Homo sapiens: one gene and its partners. The protein of the gene in region 2 purifies or fractionates together with the protein of the main gene of each other region. This does not show direct contact. Each region holds a gene or a part of one and is shown on either strand. Other genes may lie near its edges.

Region 1 (3,500 bases), about 71 Mb from region 2:
TGAATGAATGAACAAACAAATGATATTACAATGGATGCCAACAAACACCAGATGAAGAGGTGGACAGGGCGAGGTATGTGGGAAGCAGCCCTCCCTGGTTGTGCCACCCTCCAGGAACTTGCACATGTTCAGCTGTCCAGAAGTTCTGTGAATTCGGTCCTTTTGGGTTTTTATGGAAGCTTTATGACATAGGCATGATTGACTAAATCATTGGCCATTGGTGAGCAGTTTAAGCTTCAGCCCCTCTTTCCTGTCCAGAGAGGGTTGGGGCTGAAAAGTTCCAACCCTCTAATCCTAGCTCCCATCCTGAAGCTTCCTAGGGCTGCCAGGAACCTATCATCTCATTAGCATATAAGGGATACTTATCACTTTGGAGAGTCCAAAGATTTTAGGAGTTGTATGCCAGAAAATGGAGATGAAGACTAAATACATATTTTACAATATCACGTGAAGGTTGTGTTCCAGTTCTTTAACCTCCTTACTAGTGCCTAAAACATGGTGGGGACACAAGTTGTTTATGACAATACAGTTTTTAAAACATACTAGAGAATATAGTAATTGAGTAATGCACCACTAATCTGACACTTATTTTGTGTTGCTTTTGTAAATAATGGTGAACTGCAACATACATAAAGAAAAGGACACAGAACATATGTAGGAGATCATGAGGAAAGACCAAGCAAACATACATACTCATCACCCAGGTCAAGAAACAGAACACTTCAAAGTCCTTCCCTGTGTCCTCTCCTTTTCTCTGGAGACCACTGTCCTGACGTATGATCATTACCTGCTTTTATCATTTTATCATCTTGTATATCCTAAACATTTCAGTTTAGTTTTACCTGTTTTATTTATTTATTTTTGAGACAGACTCTCACTTTGTTGCCCAGGCTGGAGTGCAGTGGCACAATCTTGGCTCACTGCAACCTCCACTTCCTGGATTCAAGCAATTCTCCTGCCTCAGCCTCCCAAGTAGATGGGATTACAGGTAACCACCACAATGCACAACCAATTTTTATGCTTTTAGTAGAGACGGGGTTTCGCCATGTTGGCCAGGCTGGTCTCAAATTCCTGACCTCAGGTGACCCGCCCACCTCCTAAAGTGCTGGGATTATAGGTGTGAGCCACCACATCTGGCCAGTTTTACCTGTTTTAAAACTTTATGTAAATATAATAATGCGATATGTATTTTTTCATTTTTTTCAGCATTACCTGTAACTGCATGTATTCATAGTTCATCAGTTTTGGCTTCATAGCACTGTAGAAATATAACATGAGCCATATATGTAATTTTATACTTTCATTAAAAATAAAAAGATAATTTTTTTTTTTTAAGACAGAGTTTTGCTCTTTTTGCCCAGGCTGGAGTGCAATGGCACGGTCTCGGCTTACTGCAACCTCCACCTCCTGGGTTCAAGTGATTCTCCTGCCTCAGCCTCCCAAGTAGCTGGGATTACAAGCACACACCACCACGCCCAACTAGTTTTTGTATTTTCAGTAGAGATGGGGTTTCACCAGGATAGCCAGGCCGGTCTCGAACTCCTGACCTCAGGTGATCCACCCGCCTCGGCCTCCCAGAGTGCTGGGATTACAGGCGTGAGCCACCGTGCCTGGCCAAAAGAAGAAATTAATTTTAATATATTTCACTTAATCTTGTATATCTAAAACATTACTTCATCACGTGATTGATGTAAAAAATGAATGATTCAGGAAATATTTTACATTCTTTCTTCATATTATATCTTTGAAATCCATTGTGCATTTTTAAATTTTTTTGCCCTGTCACCCAGGCTGGAGTGCAGTGGGTGTGATCGCAGCTCACTGCAACCTCTGCCTCCTGGGTTCAAGGGATTCTTGATTTTCGTGCCTCAGCCTCCCAAGTAAGTGGGATTACAGGCATGTGTCACCATGCCTGGCTAATTTTTGTATTTTTAGTAGAGATAGGGTTTTACCATGTTCTCCAGGCTGGTCTCAAACTCCTGGCCTCAAGTGATCTGCCCACCTCAGACTCTCCACTGTGCATTTTAACAGCGTATCTCAGTTTGGACTAGCCACATTTCTTTTTTTTTGAGACGGAGTCTTGCTCTGTCACTCAGGGTAGAGTGCAATGGCACGATCTCGGCTCACTGCAACCTCCACCTCCCGGGTTCAAGCAATTCTCGTGCCTCAGCCTCCTGAGTAGCTGGGATTACAGGCGCATGCCACCACGTCTGGCTAATTTTTGTATTTTTAGTAGAGATGGGGTTTCACCATGTTGGCCAGGCTGGTCTTGAACCCCTGACCTCAAGTGATCCACCCGCCTTGGCCTCCCAAAGTGCTGGGATTACAGACATGAGCCACCGTGCCCAGCCGGACTAGATACATTTCAAGTGTATGATAGACCCAAGTGGCTAGTGGCTGCCACATTGGACAGTATAGCTATGGAGTATTCCATTGTATGGATATATTACAGTTACCCATTCCACTGTAGGTAATTGGTACAATCACTTTGGAAAACAGTTTGATACTGTCTAGTGAAGTTGAAGATATAAAAATATGTGATCCAGAAATTCTCCTGGTTATATACCCTAGAAAAATAAGTACTGTTCCGTACCAGAATACACATTCAAGGATGTTTATAGTTAAACTGTTTACAATACCCCCAAACAGAGATAACCCAAATGTCTGAGCAGAATGGGTTGTGGCTAGAGGCCAATAATCTTATGTTTTAACAAGCCCTCCAGGTGATTCCTGTGCACAGATAAGCTTTAGTTTCATTTACCCAATGGTTTAAATTATTCCAAATAAGTTGTGTTCTTTCTGCTTACTACCAAAAAATGCTAACTTGAAATTATTTTCATGTTCATTTCAGCAAACCGAATCATTATGCACCAAGCAATGACATATATGGTGGAGAGATGCATGTTCGACCAATGCTCTCTCAGCCAGCCTACTCTTTTTACCCAGAAGATGAAATTCTTCACTTCTACAAATGGACCTCTCCTCCAGGAGTGATTCGGATCCTGTCTATGCTCATTATTGTGATGTGCATTGCCATCTTTGCCTGTGTGGCCTCCACGCTTGCCTGGGACAGAGGCTATGGAACTTCCCTTTTAGGAGGTAGTGTAGGCTACCCTTATGGAGGAAGTGGCTTTGGTAGCTACGGAAGTGGCTATGGCTATGGCTATGGTTATGGCTATGGCTACGGAGGCTATACAGACCCAAGAGCAGCAAAGGGCTTCATGTTGGCCATGGCTGCCTTTTGTTTCATTGCCGCGTTGGTGATCTTTGTTACCAGTGTTATAAGATCTGAAATGTCCAGAACAAGAAGATACTACTTAAGTGTGATAATAGTGAGTGCTATCCTGGGCATCATGGTGTTTATTGCCACAATTGTCTATATAATGGGAGTGAACCCAACTGCTCAGTCTTCTGGATCTCTATATGGTTCACAAATATATGCCCTCTGCAACCAATTTTATACACCTGCAGCTACTGGACTCTACGTGGATCAGTATTTG
Region 2 (4,261 bases):
CATGTATTCTAAAGGTAGGGCTGACAAGATTTGCTGATGGATTGGCTGTGGAGCAAGATAGGGTAGTCAAAGACATCTTGTTCTTGCCAGAAGCAATGCCTGCTCATATGTGCAGCATAGGAGTAGATCCTGAGTCCAGGGCCTGTTGACTGAATGGGTGGATATCTTCCCTGATTACAGCCAGCTAAACATGCTGTGCGAAAGATCTGTTCTTTCTTATCTCAGAGATAGCATGGTATAAGTACTAAGACAAAATAATTGGAGCCAGACTACTAGTCCCAGCTCTGTCATTTACTAGCTGTGTATCCTCAGGCAAGTTACACAACCACTTTGAGCCTCAGTTTCCCCTTCTGGAAAAATGGGACAGTAATAGTACCTGCATCGCAGAATTGTTGTGGTAGTATACATAAATAGGCCTGGTATAGAGCCTACCACCAAGTCAGGGCTTAGGAAATAACTAAGTTAAACCAGTTCCCGGTTAAAACAAACAGACAAAAGGCTATGGAATAAGGGTTATCTTTATTTGGATTGCAAAGTATAAATATGAACCAGGTTTGGAAATACAAGTTGTAACAGTTCAGAAATGGCACCAGAAACTTCCAGAAAGGACCATGACAGCATAACTTCATCGTTTTGGTGAGGTGGGTGGGATTATACAAAGCCTTCCCCACCTCCAACCTTCTCGGTAGCAATTGGCAGGTAATCAGTTACCAAGAACAGTCAGCTCCAATGTTCCCTGTTCCTTCTCAGCCTTTTGCTTTGCTAATACCTTCTCCAGACTGTCCTCTGCTGCACTGACCCCTGCATGGAGTAGCACCAGAAGAATGGCAGGAGTTAGAGAAATGTCTTGACACAAGGGAAAGTGAGTTCCCACGCTGTGGGCCTGGGGCCATGGGGGTGAGGGACCAGGAAAGCTACAGGCATGGAAGCCCAACCTCTTCTGAGACTTGGCAGGGAGAGGACACGGGGAGACACTGATATCTGTTACACTTTGACATCAGCACCTTGGGCTTTCAAAACACAAATGGTAGACAAAATCGCCTAGGCAAGACTGAAGTCCAACTCATAGAGTGGCTCTGACCAAGTTAACCCCTACATCCTGACCATACAGAGCTCCCGCAGTGGCACTCTGACCACGGAAGATCTGCAGAAATGTAGACAGACAATAAATTACTACAGATGGGTCACAGAACCATCCTAGCTTTGTGGCAAAGGTGGGTGGCACTAAGCCAGATTGTGGGGATGAGGAGTGGAGGGCCAGGAAATTGCCAAAGTAACAGTCTAGGCACTTGAAATATTATTGTTAGATTGTTAAAAACTAAATAAATTAACATACATAGAATAAAATAAATATATAATTTAAGAGGCATTTACAAACAACAACAACAAAAATAGTTGTTATTTTTCCATCTGGGTAGAAGTCCCAAAATTCAGTTCTCAGGCTTGTGGTATTTCACAGTTAACTCATCAAATCCAGCACTGGAGGGTCCCAATGGCAGATCCCTTGGTGGTACTTGAGTACATGGCTTCTCAATCTTTGTTGCTTTCTTCCAGTTCACAAATCTTTCCTTCTTGCTCTCCTTCTTCTTCTTCTTTTTTTTTTTCAGTCAAAGATCCTGGAGCATATGGAATTTAACCGGCATTCTAATCCAGAAGATAAGTGTTTAAACAAACTTATGAGGGGAAGTGGGGTTTGGTGGAGGGGAATCAGAAGGGCATGAAGGTCCCTTGCTTTTGCTTTCTTCTTACCCAGATACCATCGGACATACTCTGTTTGGCACTTGAAGGCTCTGGTATTTTGGCAAAGCAATTATGGGAGGCCCAATCCTAGACGGCAACTGGGGACGAAGGAGTCTTTGTGACTAGATGGAAGTCTTTCCCCTCTGCAGTCTGAAATCACCTTGTGTCTTCTCAGAGGTAGCAGTCCCCAGCCGATTCCTAAAGCACAAAAGGAAGGCATGTAAAGCCAGGTCCAGTCTAAAGAAGTCTTAAGATTTTCCTGGTCCAGTCTTTTTTATTTTTAAACTTTTTGAGACAGGGTTTCACTCTGTCTCCCAGGGGAGGAGAGGGGAGGGGAAGGGAGGGGATGAGGGTGGGAGAAGCTGTCCTCTCAGGCATCTCTCTTAGGTGTCTCTCTAGCAACTTTTACCTTAAGTGAAGCACTGAGTCTTTTTGAAAATAATTCTGCAATGGGATATTAATGTCACAGTAGCCTGGCCCCCAACCCCTATATGAAGAATTCAGCACCCACTGAAGCACAGCCAGGAAAGGGGACAAAGGATAATCATGTCATGGGGCAAAGGATGGAGCGTTACCTTGAGCACAAGTCTCTCTCAGTGGGAATTAGTCATGCCCAACTTCACTTTCTCTTCATTTTCCACATCATAACCTCCTCTCCTATGGTACCTGAGGAAGATAAGTTTTGTGAATAAGCCCTGCCTGCTATGACAAAGTGCAGGTCCAGAGCAGGTCCTTCCAAAGAACTCTGCCATGGTGGTTTCCTCTACTACTTGGAAAAGCCCAGGCAGTAGGGCAGCCCAAACTCTGGTCAAAGGCCCAACTGCCCCGAGGAACTCCTGTCTCTAATAGCAGGATGCAATTTACAAATAGCTTTCACCTCATTTACGTGATCCTCACAACATCCTTATGAGGTAGATGGACAAACATTACAATCACTACAAGGTTACAATCCTCAGAAAGACAGTAACTTGTTCCAGGTCTCATGACAGATGAGTTACACTGCTTGAAAACAGGCATAGAGCTAGGCACGGTGGCTCATGCCTGTAATCCCAGCACTTTGGGAGGCCGAGGCGGGCAGATCACGAGGTCAGGAGATCGAGACCATCCTGGCTAACATGGTGAAACCCCGTCTCTACTAAAAAATAGAAAAAATTAGCTGGGTGTGGTGGCGGGTGCCTGTAGTCCCAGCTACTCAGGAGGCTGAGGCAGGAGAATGGCGTGAACCCAGGAGGCGGAGTTTGCAGTGAGCCGAGATCACACCACTGCACTCCAGCCTGGGCGACAGAGCAAGACTCTGTCTCAAAAAAAAAAAAAAAAAAAGAAAGAAAGAAAACAGGCATAGAGTGCTTGGTGGGTCTCCCAAGCTAGAGCATACCTGGATTAGAAAGCAGGGCCTGAGGTCCAGACGCCTCAGAAGTGGAAGGATATACCACTAGCACCACCCACACCTTGACTACCAAACCACATACTAATGCCATCAAAGAACAGCCAGGAGAAAGAAATGTGTGACAAAGTGACTCCATGAGTGGGTAGCTGGGTCATGGAGGCAGGAAAAGAACTCCTGTGAGGAGCAGAACCTGCTATGGCCTCGCAAATTTGACCCTGGGCTCTAGACACAGGACTCATGTCATGCCAGAAATACCAGGTTTTTGGAGAATCTACACCCCGGAGCTAGCCCATGATTTGGAAAGATTGAGGGAAGTGCATGTGACCATCAAGGAGAGGGCCCAGGAGGAGGAAGAAAGGGAGTGATTTGCAGAAACAGCCTGCAGGGGACCCCAACACTCACCTAAACATGAGAAGCCCCACGATGACCAGCAGACAGACAGATGACAGCACCACAGCCACCACGGCCAGGATGGTTGTGTGGTCATAGGTATATAAGCGATTTTCCACTGGGAGGCTCAGCCCATGACACCTCTCTCCATGGTAACCCGGGTGGCAGCTAGTTCAAGACAGAACAAGAAGGAGATGGAGTTAGTGCTTTGGCCTCTCTTGGCAATGGCCCACCTGCATAAGCCAAACCCCATTCCTCATACCCTCAGCCTGTCAATCCCTGACCACGATCCCTGCCCATCCTCCATCCTTCTCCTCTAGTAGAAAACTCTTTAAAGCCCCTCTGAAAGCTCTGTAGCATTCCTCTCTCACTTGACACCCTCCCCTTTTCCATTTCCTCTGGTTCTCTGGGCTGAGAATCCTGTTCTAGGCATGGAAAAAGCAAGGGAGGACTTGAAGGCCTCAGCTAGATATGTTCCACGTGTGGCTGATTTATGACATGTGTGTTCAGGCGTTCTGTTTAAGCCACTTATGAGGGCTTGGGCACAAGAGCTGGTAGGCTAAATTGAGGGAATTCGTATCACTCCCTCCAGTGAGGCCCCTCAACATTCTGACCCAGAAATAAACCCAGCCTTCCCCATCGTGCTTCCAGCGTCCAGTCCCTCTCCACTGCTGTCCAGCCTATTAATAGGCCCTGTGCCTCTGCCAGGAGTCGTTTTTCTCAAGTTTCCTTCATTTAACTCCA
Region 3 (3,500 bases), on a different chromosome or scaffold from region 2:
GTGCCCTCGATGATTATGGTTACAAAGGTGGCTTTGAGCATTCGCCCATTCTAGGAGATCTCAAACTGCCAAGATCAGCAAGTTCTGGCTCTCCCATTCAGCTTCTGGTCACCCTCCAACTGTCCTCTCTCACTTCTTCCAGATGTCAAGTCTTACCTGCCTCTAACACGATCCCTTCCTGTGATTCCCATCGGCCCCCAACCAATACCATTTGCTACTTCTAATCTGCCATAGACTGGGAAACTGGATAACCAAAGCATTTTATCTTCTCACGTATAAACCCTATCTACCTAATTTGAATGCAAGTTCCTCAAAAGCTTGATTCCTGCTTGACACCTCTTGGAATCCCCTGCACCCAGCATACTGCTCTGGATACAGGAGCCATTCAATGATTGCTGATAATAAATTTCTGAAGGCCTTTTCTCCACATAGAATGCATGGGCTTTATGACAGCTGTTTCCATCATTTGGCTTTTCTGCTTACTTCCACATTCCCAGCTGTGTTCTGGATGGTTGCACCAGCTAGAAGCCTAGGGATTTACTGTACTTCTATTTCTTGATAAGATACTTGAAGAGAATAAACACATGGCAAAGAGGACATTAAAGTAAGGGATAAAGAGATTTATTTTAATTTTACCAATAAAGAAAAAGGGAAGAAATATCACCTAGCATGTTGACACTTAATCAATAAATGACAGCAAGGCTGGATTCTGTTCTAATTCTTTCCAAAGTATTCTCATTGTGCTTGTCTTATGTCTCTACCTGCAGCAAAGCAGCACTCAGTTGTGGTTCACACTTATATCTTGATTGAAAACATTTTCCTCCATGTTTGACACACCTTTCTCTTAAATCCAAGTTAGCCAAAATTAAAACAACCATGCACTGATTCTAAACTAAAGGCTTTATCTCAAACAACATTTTGTGATGAATCTCATTGGAAAATTTAGAATAATAGAATCTCAGAGATGGAAGGGACCTAGGCCAGGCATGCTGGCTCACGCCTGTAATCCCAGCACTTTGGGAGGCCGAGGCGGGCGGATCACGAGGTCAGGAGTTCGAGACCAGCCTGGCCAACATGGTGAAACCCTGTCTCTACTAAAAATATAAAAAATTAGCCAGGAGTGGTGGTGTGCTCCTGTAATTCCAGCTACTCAGGAGGCTGAAGCAGGAGAATCACTTGAACCCAGGAGGCGGAGGTTGCAGTGAGTGGAGATCATGCCATTGCACCCAGCCTTGGCAACAGAGCAAGACTTCGTCTCAAAAAAAAAAAAAAAAAAAAAAGAAAATTAAAAAAAACTACCATGGGCCAGGCACAGTGGCTCACGCCTGTAATACCAATACTTTGGGAGGCCAAGGTGGGTGGATCACTTGAGGCCAGGAGTTCAAGACCAGCCTGGCCAACATGGTGAATCCCCATCTCTACTAAACATACAAAAAACCAGCCGGGTGTGGCAGCACACACCTGTAGTCCCAGCTACTCGGGAAGCTGAGGCAGAAGGATCGCTTGAACCCAGGAAGTGGAGGCTGTAGTAAGTTGAGATCACGCCATTGCACGCCAGCCTGGGTGACAAGAGCAAGACTCCATCTCAAAAAAAAAAAATACACACACACACACACACATTCATCCATCCATCCATCCATCCATCATGGCCTAGTCCTTCCTGAAAAAAGTATTATTTCATTGGTATGGGGTGGTACCCAGGCATTAGTATATTTTAAAAGCTCCTCAGGTGCCAGGTGGTTCAATTTCACCCCATTTTTCAAAGAGGGAAGAACCTCACCAAAGGTATTTGACAACAAATTTGCCAGAGTTAGGCTAGAACTACTCATCCTAACAAGCCATGTCTTCTCCATGTAAACTACTCCATCTACAACAGTGGAGTCTCTTCCCTCCCTCACTCTCCCTCTCTGTCCAACTATCCCCACCTATCTCAAAGTAAATATATTTTCTGAATATTCTTTGCCTTAGAATCCCATTGCATAATTTTTAAAAACCTAAATGATGTATGTCTGCTTCCCTGTATCCTCATGCTTTTTTTTCCACACAAAGAATCCCGAGAGATCAATCAGGCATGGTTTACCCTTAAAGAAGCCATATTGCTTCTCCCTAGATAGGTTGGACTCAACCCACCCTTTTCACCATTATTATCACACATGCCATCTTTCAAATCCCTTGCAAGATTCAACTTCAATTCTCTGTCAGCCCACTTAATTTCTAGTTTGTACCTGGGCCTTGTGAAACCTAGTGGACTTCCCTCTTCTGGCTTAAACTCTTTGTATTTTGTGAAAGATGCCTTTTTCCCTGAAGCAGCCTCTTTTACTCTGCCAGTTAGTCATGCCGGGTTCTTTTTTTCTTCCCCCGAGCAGTTGGTCTTTTTGATGTCTGGCACACATTTATCTGGGCTTCCAATAAGATGTTTTTACATAGTTTCCAGGCTTCCTGGAGGTTATTGACTTTTTTAACTCTCCCATTCAGTTTTTTCCCCTAATTTCTAACATTTGTTAGAGTTTCTTTCTCAAAAGTTGAATACCTGGCTGATGCAGCTCTTTGATTTTTCTCTCCCACCAGATTGCTGAATTAAATGCATCAGAACTTAAACATAATATTTCAAATTACCTCCAGGATGGAATCGCTTCATGCATTTTCTGCACTTTCATGTTCTCTATAGTAAGCAACAGATGTTTAACCAAGTAGATTTGAAAATGCTAGTTTTTACCTGTTTGTATTTTAGTATGTCTGTTTATTTATATAAAATATTCTGATACCCTTCAAAGCTTGTGTTCTTCTTGGTAAAGACAATAAACTTGAGTTTTTTTATGTTAAAAGGTAACTGATGCACACTGAACAGTTGCATGTGGTAAATTTGCTCTAAATTGCCTAATCACAACAGTCTCAACTGTTCATTCTTTAAAGAAGTGTATCTCAAGGCATTAAGAAAAACAATTCTGAATCTTTCTGAAAAATTCCTGGCCAGTGCAGTAGCTCATGCCTGTAATCCCAGCACTTTGGGAGGCCGAGGTGGATCACCTGAGGTCAGGAGTTCAAGACCAGCCTGACTAACATGGAAAAACTCCATCTCTACTAAAAATACAAAATTAGCCGGGCATGGTGGTGCATGCCTGTAATCCCAGCTACTCTGGAGGCTGAGGCAGGAGAATGGCTTGAACCAGAGGCGGAGGTTGCGGAGAGCTGAGATCGTGCCATTGCACTCCAGCCTGGGCAACAAGAGCGAAACTCTGTTTCAAAAAATAAAAAAAAATCCTATAAGCATTCAGTTATTAATGAAGTGGTAAAGACAAGTACTCCCCCAAAAGAATAAAAACGTTCTCCAAGCTATACCAACATATGCATATTTACTTTAAATTTATTTCACTTCAAAGTGTTTAGATACAGGCCTGGAATGGTGGTTCATGCCTGTAATTCCAGCACTTTGGGAGGCTGGATCATTTGAGGTCAGGAGTTCTAGACCAGCCTGGCCAACATGGTGAAACCACGTCTCT

Evidence for each region.
Region 1: the proteins of HBEGF (region 2) and OCLN purify together in Homo sapiens (affinity purification with mass spectrometry; one large-scale study listed by BioGRID and IntAct). This does not show direct contact.
Region 3: the proteins of HBEGF (region 2) and GPC4 purify together in Homo sapiens (affinity purification with mass spectrometry; one large-scale study listed by BioGRID and IntAct). This does not show direct contact.

Annotation. Positions count from the first base shown.
Region 1 is NC_000005.10:69,506,290-69,509,789, forward strand, and holds part of OCLN (occludin), read left to right. Parts: intron 1-2,851; coding exon 2,852-3,500. UniProt on the Homo sapiens protein: May play a role in the formation and regulation of the tight junction (TJ) paracellular permeability barrier.
Region 2 is NC_000005.10:140,332,343-140,336,603, forward strand, and holds the end of HBEGF (proheparin-binding EGF-like growth factor precursor), read right to left. Parts: intron 3,686-4,261; coding exon 3,530-3,685; intron 2,407-3,529; coding exon 2,334-2,406; 3' UTR 2,316-2,333; intron 1,939-2,315; 3' UTR 501-1,938; downstream 1-500. UniProt on the Homo sapiens protein: Growth factor that mediates its effects via EGFR, ERBB2 and ERBB4. Required for normal cardiac valve formation and normal heart function. Promotes smooth muscle cell proliferation. May be involved in macrophage-mediated cellular proliferation.
Region 3 is NC_000023.11:133,405,490-133,408,989, forward strand, and holds part of GPC4 (glypican-4 precursor), read right to left. Parts: intron 1-3,500. UniProt on the Homo sapiens protein: Cell surface proteoglycan that bears heparan sulfate. May be involved in the development of kidney tubules and of the central nervous system.